Linked DNA regions of Homo sapiens: region 2 is linked to region 1. The links come from fine-mapping of genetic effects on gene expression. Tissue or cell type: whole blood. Region 1 holds a variant in brackets; the other region holds the start of a gene. All regions are shown on one strand. Distances are between the middles of the regions. Region 1 overlaps HROB (homologous recombination factor with OB-fold). Region 2 holds the start of TMUB2 (transmembrane and ubiquitin like domain containing 2).

Region 1 (2,905 bases):
TGTGGTTGCTCTGCTCATCCATGCCCAAGGTTCCCAGGTGCAGGACAGAGGTGTGGCCTATTGTACCTTGTTCTGAAATAAAGCATCTCCTGCTTCTTCTGCCTCCCTTTCTTTTCCACCCCCTGCTGCTCCTGCCTAACTGCCCTGCCAGTGCTGTGTGGCCACAAAAGGGCTCAGGCAACTCTTTTTCTCTTTTTTTTTCTTTTTTATATACTTTTAGACTTCTAAAATTTTTTTTTTGAGACGGAGTCTCGCTCTGTCACCCAGGCTGGAGTACAGTGGCGCTATCTCGGCTCACTGCAAGCTCCGTCTCCCGGGTTCATGCCTTTCTTCTGCCTCAGCCTCCCAAGTAGCTGGGACTACAGGCTCCTGCCACCACGCCCGGCTGATTTTTTTTTTTTTTTTTTTTTTTTAGTAGAGACGGGGTTTCACCGTGTTAGCCAGGATATTCTCAATCTCCTGACCTCATGATCCACCCCGCTTGGCCTCCCAAAGTGCTGGGATTACAGGCGTGAGCCACCATGCCCGGCCTTAGACTTCTAAATTTATAGATTTATTTATTGCAAAGATAGTACAGAGAGTTCCCACATACCCCACACCCAGTTTCCCAGTTAATATTATTTTATTTATTTATTTTTGAGCTGGAGTCTCGCTGTCGCCCAGGCTGGCGCAATCTCCGCTCACTGCAACCTCCACCTCCCAGGTTCAAGAGATTTTCCTGCCGGCTGGGCGCGGTGGCTCACACCTGTAATCCCAGCACTTTGGGAGGCCGAGGTGGGCGGATCATGAGGTCAGGAGTTCGAGACCAGCCTGGCCAACATGGTGAAACCCCGTCTCTATTAAAAATACAAAAATTAGCGGGGCGTAGTGGCACGCACCTGTAATCCCAGGTACTCAGGAGGCTGAGGCAGGATAATTGCTTGAACCCAGGAGGCAGAGGTTGCAGTGAGCCGAGATCACGCCACTGTACTCCAGCCTGGGCGCTGGGCGACAGAGCAAGACTCCGTCTCAAAAAAAAAAAGATTCTCCTGCCTCAGCCTCCGGAAGCTGGGGATTACAGGCACACGCCACCACACCAGCTCATTTTTTTTTTTTTTTGACATGCAGTTTCACTCTTGTCGCCCAGGCTGCAGTGCAATGGTGTGATCTCGGCTCACTGCAACCTCTGCTTCCTGGGTTCAAGTGATTCTCCTGCCTCAGCCTCCCAAGTAGTTGGAATTACAGGCGCCTGCCACCACGCCCAGCTAATTTTTGTATTTTTTGTAGAGACAGGGTTTCACCATGTTGGCCAGGCGGGGCTTGAACTCCTGACCTCAGGTGATCCACCCGCCTCGGCCTCCCAAAATGCCGGGATTACAGACATGAGCTACCGTGCCCAGCCTAATTTTTTTATTTTTAGTAGAGACGAGGTTTTACCATGTTGGCCAGGCTGGTCTGAAACTCCTGACTTCAGGTGATCCCCCCACCTCAGCCTCCCAAAGTGCTGGGATTACAGGCATGAGCCACCATGCCCAGCAATTTTTTTGAGACAGGGTCTCTCTCTGTCACTCAGGCTGGAGTGCAGTGGCCCAGTCATAGCTCACTGCAGCCTC[G/A]ACCTTCAGGGCTCAAGCAATCCTCCTGCCTCAACCTCCCAAGTAGCTGGGACTACAGGCAGCACCACTATGGCTGGCTAATTTTTACATTTTTCTTTTCTTTTTTTTTTTTTTTTTTTTTGAGACGGAGTCTCGCTCTGTCACCCAGGCTGAAGTACAGTGGTGCGATCTTGGCTCACTGCCAGCTCCACCTCCCGGGTTCACGCCATTCTCCTGCCTCAGCCTCCCGAGTAGCTGGGACTACAGGCGCCCACCATCACGCCCAGCTAACTTTTTGTATTTTTAGTAGAGACGGGGTTTCACCATGTTAGCCAGGATGGTCTCGATCTCCTGACCTCGCGATCCGCCCGCCTCGGCCTCCCAAAGTGCTGGGATTACAGGAGTGAGCCACTATGCCCGGCCTAAGTTTTTAATTTTTCATAGAGACAAGGTCTCACTATTGTTGCCCAGGCTGGTCTCAAACTTACGTGATCCTCCTACCTTAGCCTCCCAAAGGGCTGGGATTACAGGTGTGGTCTCCCCTATTATTAACACCTTAGTATGGTACATTTGTCACAATGAATCATTATTAACTAAACTCCATACTTTATTCAGATTTACTCAGTTTCCCCCTAATGTCCTTTTCCCCTCAGAATCCCATTTCACAATCATCCTGACTCTTGGATGTGATAGTTTCTCAGACCTTCCCTGTTTTTGATGACCTTACAGTTTTGGGGAGTACCGGGTAGGCATATGGTAGAATCCCCCTCTATCAGGATTTGTCTGATGTTTCCTCATGATTAGACTGAGGTTCTGGGTTTTGGAGAGGAAGACCAGAGGTCAGGTGCCATTCTTGCCACATCTTATGAAGGGTTCATGCTGACTTTGATCACCTGACTGAGGTAAACTTTGCCAGACTTCTCCATTGTAAAGTTACTCTTTTTTCTTCTTTCTGTACTGGACCCTTTGGAAGGAAGTCACTGTGTGCAGCCCACATTTAAGAATTGGGGAATTATGTTCTACCTCCTTAAGGGCAGAATATCTACACAGGTTTTTGTTTTTTTTTTTTCTTTTTGAGATGGAGTCTCGCTCTGTTGCCCAGGCTGGAGTGCAGTGGCACAATCTTGGCTCACTGAAAGCTCTGCCTCCCGGGTTCACACAATTCTCCTGCCTCAGCCTCCCGAGTAGCTGGGACTACAGGCGCCCGCCACCATGTCCAGCTAATTTTTGTATTTTTAGTAGAGACGGGGTTTCACCTTGTTAGCCAGGATGGTCTCGGACTCCTGACCTTGTGATCCGCCCGCCTCGACCTCTCAAAGTGCTGGGATTACAGG
Region 2 (2,905 bases), 23 kb after region 1:
TATTTTTAGTAGAGACGGGATTTCACCATGTTACCCAGGCTGGTCTTGAACTCCTGACCTTGTGATCCGCCTGCCTTAGCCTCCTAACGTGTTGGGATTACAGGCGTGAGCCACCGCGCCAGTCCTAATTATCTATTTCTTGATCTAAGTGCTACTTCTGCCAGTGTTCAGTTGGTAGAAGCCACCGAGCTTTTTGCTTATGTTTGCCCCTGTCTGGATTATTTATCCTTTAATCAGTAGTTCTCCAAAACCCCAAACTCCAGCGCTTTTTTTTTTTTTTTTGGAGACAAGGCCTCCCTGTCGGGTGCAATGCAGTGGCTCAGATCATAGCTCACTGCAGCCTCGAACTCCTGAGCTCAAGCGATCCTCCCACCTCTGCCTCCCAAAGCGGTGGGATTACAAGAGTAAGCCACTCCCCCCGGCCACAGTAAGTTTTTAGAAAAAATTTTAATTGCGGCCGAGCGCGGTAGCTCACGCCTGTAATGCCAGCACTTTGGGAGGCCGAGACGGGGGCGGATCACCTGAGGTCGGGAGTTCGAGACCAGCCTGACCAACATGGAGAAACCCTGTCTCTACTAAAATACAAAATTAGCGGGGCGTGGTGGCGCATGCCTGTAATCCCAGCTACTCGGCAGGCTGAGGCAAAAGAATCGCTTGAACCCGGGGGGGCGGAGGTTGCAGTGAGCCGAGATCGCGCCATTGCACTCCAGCCTGGGCAACAAGAGCGGAACTCCCGTCTCAAAAAAGAAAAAATTTTAACTGCAAAAATCTGGATAAGTTCTTGAAAGCTGGACTTTTCCCCCTTTTTGTGTCCTAAGCCTGCGCCGAATCTGTGCCTTCTTTGAAATGCTTTCCCGCCTTCTTTCTCCGGGTCCCACACTACCTGGGGCCGCACTCTTCAAGCACTGGATGCTGACTAACTGGTCTCCTTATCTGTCTTCCCGACTGGCCCAGAGCTGAGTTCTTACTAATCCCCGCTAACCTGGAGTTAGGTGCGCGTTGCAAAGCAGTAACGAATCCAATCAGCCGGGGAGGCAGACAGCAGGGCCGGAAGAACAAAGCTGGAAAGGGAAACGTCGCACCGGCTCTGCCCAGCGGCGCCAGCCCGGGCAACCTTCCGCAGTCGCGAAGCCACGCCCCTTTCCCAAGTACCTCCGCGCTAACTCCTCCCCCCTGGCCCCGCCTCTCACCCTGGATTGCCTAAGGCCCCGCCCACCAGGCGTGGCCCCGCTCTGGGAGGGCCGCAATCCCGCCAACAATGACTCCACCCCTCCTTCCGCTGAGAAACCTGTCCCTTTTATTTAAAGAATACCTTTTACGTCAGCCCGTCTTACGCAGCTTCGCGTCATCAGTGCAAGGCGCGGAGGCGGGACTTCCTGTCCCTGGTATAACAGCTTCCGGGAGAAGCCGGAAGAGACCGGACCCTGAACAGAATCGCAGATTGCCAGCCCTTTTCCCGACCCCTACGGAAAGACGAGTCCAGGGGCCGTCCTGGCGAGGTCAAAACATTTAGTCTGGTCTTTTCAGGTGAGGACTTCCCCATCCAGGCACAGTGCCGGTCCAATCCCCCTTTAATTTCCCATGACTCCTCGCGTCCTGAAGCCCCGCCCCCAGTTCCCCAGCCCCGCCCCGAAGTTTGAGGGGTGTGGACGGTTTGTGACCCCCTTAGCCGACCCTACTCCTCACTGGCCGGGACAACTGGTCTTATCACGGAGGCTGGGGCCAGGCAGCCCTTCGGTTCGGGTGGGCCCATGGACCCCAGTCCAACGCCGAGGGAATAGGACCATCCAAAAGCGGAACCTTCGCCTCAGAAAAAGGGTGCGGGACCCCTCCTCACCGTGCGGTCACGGTACGGACAGGGTAGATCACAGGCTGAGGGACAGAGCAAAGACCCCTGAGGCCGGACACCTGGGGTCCTGCCGGGCCCCTCCCCACGAGAGTTCCCTGTGTCTGTGCCAATCGTTTTCGTCTTTCTTTGCCGCAGTTTCTTTTCCTGTAAATCATGGTTAATAACATTAACCTTCTTACCATCAGGGGTTAGTTGTGGTTGTGATAAATAATTACTACCGTTATTAAGCAATTGCAATTTGCAGTGTGCCAGGCACTGTGCCAAGTATTTTGCTTCGATGATTTCACGTCATCTTCAAAACAACCTCATGAGGTAGGTACTGTTTTTAACCCCATTTTACTGATGAGAAAGCTGAGGCTCTGAGAAAGTTGTCTGAGGTGTTATAGCTAGTAAGACGCAAGACTGGGGTTATAATTAGTTGTTTTTCTAACTCCAGGGCCGGTATATTAAATAAGGATGTTGATGTGTTCCACAGATAATTCTTTGAGCAACTACTGGGGCATTATATTGGACACTTCAGTACCAAGAGAAATACATACGATCCTTGTCTACCAGGAGTCTAATAGAAAGATGGACAGGTACATAAGTATAATGAAGTTTTATAGGTGCTGTGAGAATAGTCTGATAATGGTAATCACCAGACTGGATTTGCCCAGGGACAGCTGTGAAAGCAGCAGATTCTCCAAGGGAAATAGTAGGTACTCCAAGGAGCAAGCAGGGACCCTTCCTGCCTTTCTAAGAAACTGCAGCAGCAGAACCTTCACAGTGAAAGAAGAGAGACTGAGATATGGATTGTGAGAGCTGTTATGGAATCTTTTTCAAATCACTCCACTTGGGGAGTGGTCATTGCAGGAGTGGGCCCATGGTGACCCAGGAAGGTGGTGCTTCTGGTGTCTGTCCCAAGTTGCTCCCCAGGGCTTGCCAGAAGTTTCAGAGGCGGCACATAATGTCTGCTGCATAGTATCTGCCCGCGGTCCCTACAGAGTTATCGTTTTAGATTTGTCTGACTCTGCTTTTGATGGTAGGTCAGTTTTCTTTGGCTCTTGACATCTGGCA

What was found. PIP is the estimated chance that this variant, and not a neighbour inherited with it, causes the effect.
Region 2: it holds the start of TMUB2, and the variant in region 1 is the best candidate, but not a certain one, in a credible set for the expression of TMUB2 in whole blood (TOPMed, PIP 0.56).

The regions. Positions count from the first base shown.
Region 1 is chr17:44,162,382-44,165,286 of GRCh38, forward strand. It overlaps HROB (homologous recombination factor with OB-fold), which reads left to right. Exons shown (of 10, transcript NM_001171251.3): 10 at 1-95. Among named protein-coding and RNA genes, the nearest start is that of ASB16, 6.9 kb to the right of the region's middle. The variant G/A (reference allele first, on the strand shown) is at 1,593.
Region 2 is chr17:44,185,583-44,188,487 of GRCh38, forward strand. TMUB2 (transmembrane and ubiquitin like domain containing 2) reads left to right here and starts at 1,390. Exons shown (of 4, transcript NM_001076674.3): 1 at 1,390-1,527; 2 at 2,094-2,161. The coding sequence starts at 2,127. ASB16-AS1 (ASB16 antisense RNA 1) reads right to left here and starts at 1,135. Exons shown (of 3, transcript NR_049730.1): 1 at 983-1,135. RefSeq lists an enhancer at 714-1,248.